2 linked regions of the Homo sapiens genome follow. The protein of the gene in region 1 interacts with the protein of each later gene in a pairwise test. Each region holds a gene or a part of one and is shown on either strand. Other genes may lie near its edges.

What was found. Proteins that work in one complex are often made in the same cells at the same time.
Region 2: the proteins of ZXDC (region 1) and RORA interact in a two-hybrid assay, tested with the Homo sapiens proteins (one study listed by BioGRID).

What each region holds. Positions count from the first base shown.
Region 1 is NC_000003.12:126,465,865-126,472,892, forward strand, and holds part of ZXDC (zinc finger protein ZXDC), read right to left. Parts: intron 6,442-7,028; coding exon 6,289-6,441; intron 6,188-6,288; coding exon 6,109-6,187; intron 5,162-6,108; coding exon 5,031-5,161; intron 462-5,030; coding exon 291-461; intron 1-290. UniProt on the Homo sapiens protein: Cooperates with CIITA to promote transcription of MHC class I and MHC class II genes.
Region 2 is NC_000015.10:60,505,303-60,512,330, forward strand, and holds part of RORA (nuclear receptor ROR-alpha), read right to left. Parts: intron 6,799-7,028; exon of another isoform or gene 6,731-6,798; intron 6,320-6,730; coding exon 5,924-6,319; intron 5,232-5,923; exon of another isoform or gene 5,106-5,231; intron 328-5,105; coding exon 206-327; intron 1-205. UniProt on the Homo sapiens protein: Nuclear receptor that binds DNA as a monomer to ROR response elements (RORE) containing a single core motif half-site 5'-AGGTCA-3' preceded by a short A-T-rich sequence.

The DNA of each region.
Region 1 (7,028 bases):
CACTTGAGCAGGAGCCTGAGGTTGCAGTGAGCCATGATCACACCACTGCACTCCAGTCAGGGTGACAGAGAGGGACCCTGTCTCAAAAAACAAAAGACATGGGAGGGATTAGAGGGTCAAAGGCAAGAAAGTGGCAGAGAGTGCAAAAGAGGCCACTTGGCTTGGCAGCCACGCCCACAACCCCACTGCCTGACGCCTTCCAAGAGGTGAAGAAGGAACAGACGGCACTGGCACTGTTCCCGTTTCTCACAGGGAAGCAGCTCCCCATGGGGGCCGTGGAAAGTGCAGACCTTGGCGCCGGCTGTGCTGTCTGACCATGTGCGCCTTCATGCTGTGCTTGGAGGTGAAGAGTCTGTTGCAGGTAGAAACTGGGCAACGGCTTTTCGGAGCACCCACATCCTGCACGTGTTTCTTAGAGTGAATGTACAGACTGCTACGAGCGGAGAACCTCGCGCAACATCCTGGAACAAAAAGAGTAATGAGAGTGAAACCCAAGGATCACCAAGGAACCAGGAACAAGTGACACTTCCCCATCAGATCAGAACCACCAGACCTGCATTTTGCACCCTGGCTACTGGCAAGGACAGAGACCAAATATCTCTAGAAGTAGCATCACAAGCAATTCAAGTCAAAAGCAAACTGTTTTTAAAAAGCAAGAGATACAGTGAAACCCGTAGGGAGATTTGAAGTCCTACCTCAGCTATGCCTAAGCAACCTCTGTGCCTGTTTCTTCACCCACTACATGGAGATGTTGGGAAGATTAAGTCAAATTAAGTATTAACTGCTTAAATATTCAGTTGAAAACAATTTATTCTAGTCATCTCGATTAAGCTATTATCATAAAAAATGTAATCCTAGGATGACATTTAGAGCTGGAAACTATCTTGACAGATCACCAAAGCCAGTCCTTTCACTTTCCCACTGAGACAATGGATGCCCAGGGAGACTGAGCAGGTGTCCTGGAGCCCAGAGCTGGCAACTCCTTGCTTACACTCCCAGTCCACTTATGTCTCTGATCTGCACACAGGCATCAGAGGAAAAACAAGACACATTCAAAGTTACAATCACCTCCCCTCCGTGCCCTGGCTTTCTACTACGCTGGAGCTCTGCCCCATATGGACACAGGAAGGAGACGTGGAGCTCTTGGCGGTCAGAGGCCTATGACCTGGTAGGGGCAAATAGAACAGCCAGTTGCTGCAACAAAGGGCAGAAGGAAGTCAGTGCCAACACTGAAACATGCAAGCAGCAGAGGAAACCACACACCTCCCGAGAAGGCAGAAAAGCGGTCTCAGGAGTATGCAGCCCTCGAGGTGACTGGGCCACCCTGCAGCAGAGCAGATGGTGCTCCTGCCGCAGGAGCTGCCCAGCCAAGGCATGGGGGCATGAAGGGCAGCAGTGCAGGCACCCCAGCCTGGGTTCCAGTTCAGCCTCTTACCAGCAGTGTGGCCTTAGACAAATTATTTATCTTTTGCGGGTCTCCTTTTTCTGTTCTGTGAAACGGGAGTGACACCTACCTCACAGGGGTGCTGAGGGCCCAATAAAGCCATACCTGCCTACAGAGCCTCTGCACGGGCCTAAGCAAGTGGTGCGAGCAACGACGCACTCGCGGCACCTTCTTAAGACGGTGGGGTGGTACTGCCAGAGCCCAGCGCCTGGAGGAGGGATATTTTAAGGAAAGAGGCTATGAAGATAGGATACGGCCAGATGAGTAAGGGCCTTGGATGCCTGTGAATATAGTTTTCAACTACATTTTTCATTTTCTAATACAGCTGCAAACTCGTTTCCAGGTCAGGCTCGTCAAAAACCATCTGGGAAACAAAGGAGACAGTCCGACGGCCCAGGACTGCCCTGCAAGCGCGCAGTTTCCTCTGCATGCCCTGCTCACCATGGTACACAGGGTACCCTGGAACCCCCTTTCCCAGCTGGGGGTCCTGAGCACGGATTTCTAGAGACAGGTCACAGAGCAGAGGCTCTGAGCACATCTTCTGTCAAATGCCTTCTTGATGGCAGGGCCACGCTACAACAGGACCCTTGCACACTCTTGCCAGCACTGGGTTTCCATTTTTTAAAGTACTTGCTAATTCCATAGGCAAAAAATATATTTCATTTTGGTTTGTATTTCCTGCGACAACCAGGAATGTAATCATTTCTCCAAGTGTACTAACTGCTGGCTTTTCCAAATTCTGCCAGTATATTGAGATCTGTTTCCATTCTTTACAAATCCAAGCTGCAACCAGGGAGAGGCAGAAGCAGCCATCACTGACAGACCTGTCTGCAAAGCTGCATTCAGAGGACAGTGAGGCGCTCACATGGACGGCCAGGCAAGCACAAGGCTCGGCAACACGAGACACAGGCCCCAGCACACATAGCCCCGAGGCCGCAACGAGGCCACCCAACACCTGCCCTCAGACATACTTCTGGTCTGTGGCCTTGTCCTTTCCTCCTCCTCCTGTTACTACAAAAAAAGGTAGTTTTGCCTTCTACTTTTTATTACAGAACAGTTCAAACACCTACCAAAGTGGAAAAAATGGTGTCATCAGCCCCAACTATTGCCCAACCCCAAGAATGATCAACTCTCAGTCCAGCTGAGAAGAGGTTCTGGGCTCCTCCCACCAGCTCCAACTCCATCTCCACGTGCTGCCCATACACCACGTGGGGAGTGCCCAGTTTCTCTCCCAGCACAACACCTAGACTTGCTGGAAGAAACAGAGCTCTACAGAAACAAATGCCCTATCCTCCACGGCCAACTCCCACCTTTCCCCTTTCCCCAGTCACCTCTGGCAGAAGTGTCAGCACAAACCATCCCCATCTCCCACTCAGGCCACCTCTCAGGGCACCAGAGCAGGACTCTGCCTGAGTGACCCACGGAACCTCATCCATCAGCACACCAAGACAACCCCGCAGGTGGCACCGAGGCATGTGTTCCCTGGTCCTGGCTCACCCTAGCACTCCAGGTGACCCCCACTTCCACACATTCCCCACTCACCTCAGCACCACCCCCACTGTGCTGTTGCTGGTCCTGCCAGTACCCGTCCCAGCCACTCCACCGGAATCTGGGGCAGCCCCAGGGCTCTGTCCTAGGTCCTTTTTAAGAAAATCTAACAGCAATCACAACAACGACAGTAACTGACATATATACTGATGTTTTCCATATGCGCTAAACTTAGTAACCAATCCAGCCTTCTCAACAACCCTGGGAGGTTTTATTCACTTTACAGATAAGGAAGAGGCACAGAGAGCTTCAAGTGTTTGTCCGAGGCCCCAGACCTACTTACGTGGCAAACTTAGGACTCGAATCCAGGCAGTCTGACTCCAGAATTCAGGCTTTTGATCAACTACACTACCCTGACTCTCCTCCATTTATACTCTTCTTTGAGAATTTCATCCACTTTTGTGGCTTAAATGATGATTCGGGTGCTGTCTGCTTCGCTCCCTGCCTGGCCTGCTCTCCCCAGCACCAGTGGCACATCCCCTGCCCTCTGCGCATTAGACGCACAAGGGTACCAAAAACACAACATGTCCAAACCAAACTCTGCTTCCTCCAAATCCACTCAGCTGACACACTGACATCAACTAAAATCCAAATCCATCACCATATACTGTGACTTCTAACTCCCACCTCTGCTATTGATGCCCCTTTCTCTTTTCCCACTGTTAAGGCCCCCGTCCAGGCCATCCCACCTCCCCACACCCCTGGCTGCTTTCAATCCTGAAGCCAGGCTAAGCCACAACTCAAACATGATGACATCATACGCTCACCCAAGCACTCAAGCCTGCCACTCCTGGCCCTGAGAGGCTCTCCCAGGCCACTCCGCCTCCAACACCCACACGCACGTGTCTGGTGCTCTCCCCTCTTCTTCAGCTGACCGCGAGGCCGTTCTCACCCCGGTCTGGGGAAACTCTCTGCGCCCCTGCAGCACCCTACATGTTACCTGTTCCCCTGTCTGCACCTCCAGCTGAAACTCTGACGGAAGGAGGAACTGTTTCTCAGTTACACCACTTGTATATATGTTCATTATGTTCTAAGAGCTAGGCTCAGCTTTAAATGGGTCTTTATTATTCTCTCTTCCAGGTAAGGAAACCAAGGCCCAGAGAAGCAGCTTGACTGAGGCCACCACTTTAGGGAGCGGTAGAGCCAGACTTTGAATCCATGACCACCCGACGTGTCCTGGCTCACTGCCTCCCAGTGCACCTGCAGAACTAGAGTAGGGCCAGCACGCACAAGTCACGCACAGGTCACGCAGCCAATTTCTGGCAAATGAACTGAGCCTTCAGTGTTTTAAAGGAAAAAACCACTCTACTATACCTTTTAAAAAGTCAGGTTGGGCGTGGTGGCTCACACCTGTAATCCCAGCACTTTGGGAGGCCAAAGTGGGTGGATCACTTGACGTCAGGAGTTTGAGACCATCCTGGCCAACATGGTGAAACCCTGTCTCTACTAAAAGCATAAAAATCAGCCAAGCGTGGTGGCATACGCCTGTAGTCCCAGCTACTCAGAAGGCTGAGGCATAAGAATCACTTAAACCTGGGAGGCAGAGGTTGCAATGAGCCAAGATCACACCATTGCATCCAGCCTGGGTGACAGAGCAAGACTGTCTCAAAAATTAAACAAAAAAAGAAAAAGTCAGTCTAGCTTTACTGCTCTCCAATTACAAAATGATTGGAGTGACAATTCAAACGTGATCTCAAAAGTACCTACCATTTACTGAGTCCGAGCTCCATGCCAGATGGATAAACAGGCATTTTCCACATTTCACCTAATCCTCACGACCACCAAATTAAACAGGTAACTTAACTAGAGCCACAGATCTAATGAGGATCAGGGCCATGAGTCAAACTGCGTCTGATTCTCAAGTCACTGCTCCCAAAATAGTACAATTAACTCAATGAGGTAAGTAAACATAATGCTGCAACTTATATTGAGTCAGTCTTTAAGCAGCTAACATTTACCTTTAAACAACGGAAACTTAACAGGATAAATGTTGGCATTGCACTTAGTTTACTGCTCAAAGCAATGTTTTAAAATCTACCTTCCACAGGACACTCGAACGGCTTTGTGCCTAGGTGGGTTATGCTGTGGCCTTTCAGATGCTCTGCTCTGGTGAATGATTTCCCACAGCCCTCGACAGGGCAGGTAAACCTCCGGTCATCGTCATGTTTCCTGCCAGACAGAAAAATAAAGGAGCTGTGATTCCTCACACAACTCACCATAATTCTTTAAAATTCTACAAAACATACCAAAACACAAACTTTGCATTTACAAAAATGATCAGTACATTTCGGAAAATCTTAATTCTGTCTTTAATCCATGTGAGCAGATTTGCAATTTAGCTACCCCATAAAAATTCTACTTTAATGACTAAGCTGACCCCAGAGTCACACATCAAACAATTAATGCTACTTCAATCTAATATAAGCTAATCTAAGAACAGTGGAGTCCCAAATGTATTGATGAAGGTGTTTCTATTGTTTAGAAACCCCAATGATCAACAAGCTTTCCGAGCGACAGACGGTCGTGAGAAATGTGCACAGAGCATCAGCTGCAATGCCAAAAGGACTCTCTTAAGCCAACTTGTAAAGACTGTGTCTTTTCCTAAGTGACATTTTTATATTAAATCCTCAGAGCCCAGCTGTGCAAGTACAGAAAAACCACTGAATCTCTCCGAGTCTCACTGTAAAACAGGGAGAATAAGAACATTAGCTTTGAGGTTGTTGGGAAGGTAGAAGACACACATGTAAAGTGCTGAGTGTCACCTGGACACAGTCTCCAGGGTTGTCATTACCACCATGAAAACTTGTAATTACATGAAGAAAGCTTATTCTACAATGTTAAGTTAAAAAAAAAACCTGGAATTGTTTTTTTTTTAAGAACAGAGTATGCCAATTTAGCTTTTTTTAAAAAAAGTATACACAGAAAAAACTGACTTCAGGTGATGAGATTCTGAGCAATTTTCTTTTTACAGTTTTCTGAATTTTCCAAATCATCAACACTGAGCTCCTTTTTTAACAACTTAAAAAATGTCTACAGATATTTCATTCATTGGTTTCTGCTGCTGACAAACCACTCATTTTCAAACCTGATAATGCAAACCAAAATGTAAGGATTACCTTCTGTGCCTTAGAAGTTTGGACATGCTGGTGAAGGTCCAGCCACAGCTGTCAGAGTCACAAATAAATGGTCTTTCACCTTATAAAAGAAAAAATTATACAGCATAAAATTTACAACTCCAACAGCTACGATGAAGACAAATCTTGGGTCCAAATGCTGTGCGTTCCCTAGCTCATTACCTGTATGGCTCCGCAGGTGAATTTTCAGCCGACAGGCTTTATCATACTGCTTGCTGCACCCAGGAAAGGAGCAGGAAAAGAGCTCTTGTTCCCTGAAGTGGGCTCGGTTATGGGAAAACAGGGCACTCACTGTGATAAATGTCTTCTCACAGCCTGAACAAGGAAAACACAAACCCTGCTCAAAGCGTGGCAAAAATTATACAACATAGCTAATGCTAGTCACACCCACCAGACCCTGTTCACACTGAAGCAGACAAGGGAAAACATGACTCAGAAGCACTCTCTAAAAAGGGAAGACCATTAATGCTTGGCTTTGTGATCACCACAGGAAGGCAGCTAATGGCAGCCAATAGGCACACGCTGGCCACCTGTTGCAACATGACTTGGAGATGGAGCAACCGATAAAGAGAAAGTCCTCCGTTCACAGCCATCTACTGGCCGGCTCCGGAGCACTGATCCTGCACACACACTGAGACCCAAGAACCCCATGAGAGAAATCAAATACTAAGGAACAAGATTTTGTCTGGTAGGGTTGATCTTTGAAAGGCTACAAATCATCCTACTAGCCAGGATTTTTCACCCCTTGGGGGTGATGCTGCATCCTCTACATATCCAAATTTCCTCCCTGACACCCTCCAACTGCCAGCCCTGTCCCTTGCTGTTTGGATTCTTTTTCCTTTCGCAATTTCCTTAGGTTCCCTGCTTTGTAATCTTCACCTCAATCCTAACCCCTGGCCAAA
Region 2 (7,028 bases), on another chromosome or scaffold:
GAAATTATTTGCTATTGCTGAAATTTTGCATCTGAGTTAAATGGCAAAGCCTCAAGTACATTAGTAGCTTCAGAAAAAAGATATTTAAACAGAAACCTGATGACATTCATTCTTTAGTCTGTGTGAACTCTTGACCAACTTTCCTATACCAACACCCTTCCCAATATTGCCTCAATCCTAGGAGGAAAAATTCCTCAGATCATACCTTGTTTTGATAGTTCTCAATTTCTTCCTGTAAAAAGGTCTGCCACGTTATCTGCTGGAGCTCTTCTCTCAAGTATTGGCAGGTTTCCAGATGCGATTTAGATATATTCTGTGCAAGGTGTTCTAAGGAGAAAACGGGAGATCACAAACACGAAAAGCGAAGTTCTTTGAATAATTGGTGATTTAATATTTGCTTTAAGAAATAACAAGTAGAAAACAATGTGCTGTGCGAGTTTTGACTGTCTTTACACATTTAAACAAGTAATTTGGAACTGTTTTGTATTTGGGAACGTGAAGGAGGACAGGGACTTTGCAAAGCCAGCATTTGAAGATAAGACCTGCTGACTTCAAAGACCCTCCTGACTTTGCCCTTGTTCTGTGCCTTTATACCAATGTCTAGGAATGAAAAAATATTGACCTAGATAGACATAGGAAATGATTGACGTGGTGCTTCTTCTTGGCATTTTTATGAAGACACATCTGCCACATAACATTGACCTGGGAAGGATTATTCTTATTCTTGAAAAACTAGAAAATGATATTCTTTTATGGTGACAACTAGGTATTTCTTTTGTTTTTCCTGCAAATTGCAGAACAAGCATTACTGAGGGCCTACCATGTGGCTATGCATAGTGTAGTTGTGAAGCCACATACTCTGGAGCTAGACCATTTGAGTCTGTATCTCAGCTCTGCTGCTTACTAGCTGTGTGATCTCGGGTATGTTATTTAACCTCTTTGTGCTTGGTTTCCTCATTTGTAAAATGAGGGAAATGGTACCTATTTCACAGGGCTGCCATGAGAATTAAAAGAGTTGAGCCCTTAGAATGGGGAGGATTACTTAGAATGTGCTACAGAATATTAGTTATTATTATACTTGAGCATAAGGAGTTTGAAGATATGAAAGACCTAGAGGCCAAAGAAGTTTTCTCTAGGAGCTTGTAATCTGGTGAACACGTATGAACACACTGGAAGGACAATTCAAGTCTAGATAATAAGGTATAAAGTTGAATTACAGAAGAAGAGAAAGAAAAAAGTAATTGAAGCTGTCAGAAAAGGAAGAGATTGGCTGGGTGTGGTGGCTCACGCCTGTAATCCCAGCACTTTGGGAGGCTGAGCTGGGCAGACCACTTGAGGTCAGGAGTTCAAGACCAGCCTGGCCAACATGGTGAAACCCTGTCTCTATTAAAAATACAAAAAAAAATTGGCGTGGTGTTGGCTGTCTGTGATCCCAGCTACTTGAGAGGCTGAGGCAGGTGGATCACCTGAGGTCAAGAGTTCGAGACCAGCCTGGCCAACATCATGAAACCCTGTCTCTACTGAAAATACAAAAATTAGCTGGGCGTGGTGGCGGGTGCTTGTAATCCCAGCTACTTGGGAGGCTGAAGCAGGAGAATCGCTTGAACCTGAAAGCTGGAGGTTGCAGTGAGCCGAGATCACACCACTGCACTCCAGCCTGGGCAATAGAGCGAGACTCCCTCTTAAAAAAAAAAAAAGAAAATTATATCTGGGGAAATGGAACAAGCAGTTTTGTGCTTGGTGTATTGGAGCACAGAGAAGCTCAGGCAGGAGGACCACATAGAAGGCTGCTAGAATCTAGATGCCAGGAACTAACAATTTGGAGCAGCTTGGTAATAATTGTTCTGGAAGGGAAGGATGATTAAAGAAGTATTTTTTAAAAGAATTGACAAAATCCCATGAATATAAAACCATATCAAAAAATGATCCCTCTCCCTAGGGTTTTGAGTATAGAATAGGCAAGTCATTTTAAAAGAACGGTGCTGAATGCAAACTTGGCAACACTAGGGAGAATATCTTTTTGTTTGGAAATTTGTTACTGCTTTTGTCAAACAGAAGCAGACTTGTTTGTGTGAAAACAGAGCAGGTTCACCTAAATGGAGCTGGAAACCAGAATCTCCTTAGAGACACTGAAACATAATAAACCTGAATGGCCCTACTTGGCAACACATAGACACTAAAACAGCATGAATAAATAACATAAAAAATAAAACACAAATAAAAGAACAAATGTAAAGGAAAGAATGAGAAACTGAGAGTGAGAGAGAGAAGCCAGTAAATTACATGTCTTAGAATCAATGACGCTGGAGAATAGGTGAGTAAAGACAAAAATAATGGGGAGTAAGAAACAAGAAAATACATAAATAAGGTAGTGAACTACCTCTTTTGGAAAGAACTCTCACTATATAAGGTCGTTTCTAGAATGTAAACCAATTTTTGCCGATAAAAAAATGATGAAGATGAAGAGTCTTCGCAGGGAAGTAGGGGGGGATGCTGTGGAGTGAAGGATGAGAAGAGGCTCATATCATTTCCTTCCAGGTTATGTTTCATTTCTAGTTAATAAGATACTTAGCATCTTGTGGTTTCACTTTGTCTTAAGAAACTGTGGCCACTTATCCCTACCTATTTAAAACAGCCAATAAAAAGTGAGACAACAAATCATGCAGTGTACCTGACATACCAGTAGAGGGCAGTGGTTGCATTCACACCATCTGCTCACCAACAGCCTTTCATTCCAATTCATAGTCGATTTGGCAAGTGTAAGATTTTAGACACTTTGCTATTTTTAAATCTCCATTTCAGCAAAGGCGAGTATGGTCAGGCTGAATAAAATTCGAGAATTTAAGCGTGGTCTCTCAGATAAAGTCTGGAATAGTGAAATACCTTGGGCTAGGAGTTAGGAGACCTGGCTTCTGTCTGAGCTCAGCAGATAATCTATAGTCTACCTCACTTTGTGACTGGGGCAAGTCATGTGCCCCAACCATGACTGCTTCAGCAATACAGCCAGCGCCTCGATACTTCAGATGGGAAGTCCTCGCTTCTGAGTTAGTCACAGATTTTCATAGTGGGAAGGAACTTTAGATAGCATCTGGTCCAAACTGTCCTTGTTTAACAAATAATAATGACATTAATAATTATGATAGCAGTTAACACATATAGCATTCACTATATGCCAGTCCCACATAATTTGTGTCTATCCTGAATATGTATGTTTTCTCACTTAATCCTTATAACAACCCCAAGAGAAAGGTACTAGTATTATCTCCATTTTACAGAGGAGGAAACTGAACCACAGTGAAGTGACTTCTTCAAGGTGTCACAGCTGGCAAGTAGCAGAGCTATGATTCAGACACAGACCTTTATATTCTAGGAGTAGAGAAACTACAGCTCGCAGATGTTACGTGGTGTATACTGGGTTGTATAACTTATATTAATGCCAGGACCACAACCCATATAAGCGGATTTCTTGTCTCATGCTTTGCCCAGTATATCAGCTGTTTCTCCTGCGCAAAGCTTTAGATATCAATTATAGTAACAAACCTAATTTGCACTTAAAACCTAGGTCGTTTATCTGGAATGTCTAATTCAGGTACTAATTGTACACCAAGGGCAAAATTTCCTAGCCAAGGATGAAGTCATATTTTTCACTAAAAGTAATAGGTTGTGCATACTACACTTGAAAGAGAGAATTGGACTTAGGATGTGTTGGTTTATAATTTATTTTCCTATTATACAATTGGTTTCACTTGTTTAAAATCTGATGACAAAGTTTAGCCTAAAATGAAGTCAAGAGTCTTAGTTAAAGAGATAGCAGGCTTTAAGCCCCAAAAGAAATACCAGGGAAATTTAAGTAGCTTTGGAGAAGCAGCAACAAGACTTGGGCCACTTTCATGATACTCTTAGCTCCCTGAAACACTTTGCATGTATAAATGGGATAAGAGAATTAGAGCCCAATTATATACTTTCCAGATAAATGCTAGTTTAGTTTTGGGTTTGGGAATTCTCCTAGTGATGATCTCATTTAATTTATCTTGGTAAATACCACAACACCTGTGAAAAATCCCTAATTTAAAAGCACATAGAGCAAGCATGAGGGGGCAGGGCTCCCAGACTGCACTGGAAAGTGAGACCATGGAAGAGGAAGCTGACTTGTCCGGGAGCCTCAGGGAATCGGCTCAGCCATTTCTGGCCCCACTTCGGTATGAGTGCATTTTTTAGCCAAAGTGCCATGTTCAAGGGCACGCTTTGCCTAAGGCCTATGGATTTATTTCAGGATTGAATATTTGACAAGCAAACAGGACAGAGTCACTAGTATTTATGGTAAGGTGGAGGCAAACCTAAAGTGAGTCAGGTCATTTTTCATGGTATCATGTCAGCTTTCAATCAAATCCTTATTCATATCTGAAAATTGTACTTTCATTACAGTTCTGCTTAAGGCTCAGCCAACCAAGATTTCATGACAAAAATGGAAGGTTTTTGTTCTAGTTCAAGAAAAAAAAAAAAAAATCAAACCTACCTCTGCTCAGCTTGGCTTCTAGTTCAGAGGTTTCTCTGTTAATCAAAAGAGCTGCAATACACCTTTTAATGCTGTTCAGTGGTTAAAGACCAGGCTTAAAATGTCCCTGCTCTTGAGGATTTAAATTTAGACCCATAAAGAGATGCTTGTGTAAAAACCGTAAAGAACATTCAATTTGTTCTATTTGGAGAAAGATTTTACTGGAAATATAAATTTTCACTTAAAAGATGTTTTATGGGGTGCAGAGGTAGAGAAACCGTCTAAAGAACACAGCCATTATTTCTGTGAACTGAGGATTTCTGTGCTCAAGTCTGAACCTGCTGTTTCTTTTCCGTCTGAAGTCTTCATTCTCTCCTTGTATTAACTTAGTCATCTCCACAGCAACTAATTGACATATCCCAAAGGATTATAACCTTGTGTGAGGAACCACCAGGAGGAGCAGATCAAATTTAAAAACTACAAAGGTTCTTATCAAAGTTTTTCTAATAATAGTGCTGTACTTAAAAATCGATTAAATATAGCAGCGGATGTTAACACAACTTCCTCGAAATGGAAAGTTGCCCATTGTCTGTGTTATCAACATTTCTAGGTCACATCTCCCAAGAAGCAGTAATGTTCCAGCAATAAGAAAAGGACAGTTTTTTGTCTTTTGCATGGTGAGCCTTATATGAATTACATCAATTTTGTCACCAATATCCATCATCAGAACATTTTGGTAAGTAAAGAAGCTGATTTCTGTTGAACATTTATACTATATATCAGAGTTGCAAAAATGAGATGCCTACAGGGGCTGTGCATATGATATAAATGGCGGGAGTCAGGTGGGCCCATTGAAAGGTGTAATCCCCTGGCTGTTGCCAGTTGGCTGTTGACATTCACAAATGTTGGCTCAGTGTAAATAGATCATTTTTTCCCCTCCCACAAGAAGCTAAAAAAGCTGAACTTTTGGGTATAATTATCCAAATTTAAATATTAGCAACTGATTCAAAAATTTTAAAACTCTGCCCTGGGCAAAAAAATATGTCTGTGGGCCAAGTTCAGTTTGTGGACTGCCATTTTTTTTTTTGTCACCTTAGGTATAAAGCAATCCTTGGAATATAACTAAAGTAAACCACTAATGAAGTTAATGTAGCCATTTCCTGAACTTACAGTTTTCTGCAGAATTCAAAGACTGCTTCCGTTGGTTTTGCCCCATTTCTAATGCTGAGAGGTCAATGCATGTATTGGATAAACCATGGGAAACAGCAGAGGGTCAAAAGCAAGGGGGCAGGGCAGAAAATTAAGTGGCCCAAATGGTAAAGGTGAATTGCATCATTTAGCAGAACTCATTAGAGGAAAGTCAGACATACCCCTTTTACTTCAAAGGGCATGAATAGAGCATCCCAGGAGAAGCATGCATGCCATTACCTAATTCTGCCATGGACACAGTTGGGGAAGTCTCGCCGTTGGTGAACGAACAGTAGGGAAAGAAGCCTGATGCTGGTGTGTAGTCACATATTGGTTCTGGTTTGATTCCATTGATATCAAGACCTGACTGGTCTGGGGAAGGCTGTATGTCCAGGTAGAAGCTGCTGACGGCGGAGTCTGCCTTACTCCCCTCAGGGGTGTGCCCGTCAATGTAGTTACTGAGGTCGTCGTGAAGTTCCGTCAGCCCGTTGGCCGAGATGTTGTAGGTGGGCGTCAGCGGCTCAGCCTCTCCAGGCTGCTGCTGGTGGTCGCGCTGCTGCTGCTGCATCCGGTGTTTCTGTACTTCTGCATACAAGCTGTCTCTCTGCTTTTTTGACATTCGGCCAAATTTTACAGCTGGAAGAAAAAAGCCAAACCATACTACATACAATGCGCTTTTCTTCAATATTCTCTCCTGCGAGCTTTGGGGTTTCCTTTGAAGTCTCACACAATCTCAATCCAAAACTGCATGACCACAAAATAAGGACATATTCAGAGGTGAAAACAGTTCCAACCCACACAGACTCGCTCCAGCTCCCCAACAGCAAACACACATCCCAGAGAAACTCATGTTTCAGAAAGAGGCCTGGTGCAGGTAGGAGGGGCCCAGAGAGATGCCACTTCTGTTTCCCTGCTGTCACATCCCCCGTTTCCACTGCGCCCCACTGATAACTTAATGGGCTTGTTCACTCTCCCCCCGTGCAGCTGGCTTAGGCTACCTCTTTCTCTCCCACGTTCAGACCAAGGCACAGGGAAGCAAAGACTCACAGGGTTCATCAAGGAATAAGCAGTCAAACCTCAGCGTTCATTCAGTTCACCGTCTTGTACGCTCCGACAGTTCTCCCTGATCAAATGGCCACTTCTGCAGCTTCATTGTGAGGTCTGAATGAACTGGATGAGGCCTCTGTAATTCTTTGAATTACATCAGAGTACCTGACCTAAGAAGCCCCCTCCTCCAGTCATGGGTCATGGGTCATGGCAGCCCCTGTGGAACCCTGAGACCCATCTTTATTTTTATTTATTTAGTTAGTTATTTTGAGACAGAGTCTTGCTCTCTGTCACCCAG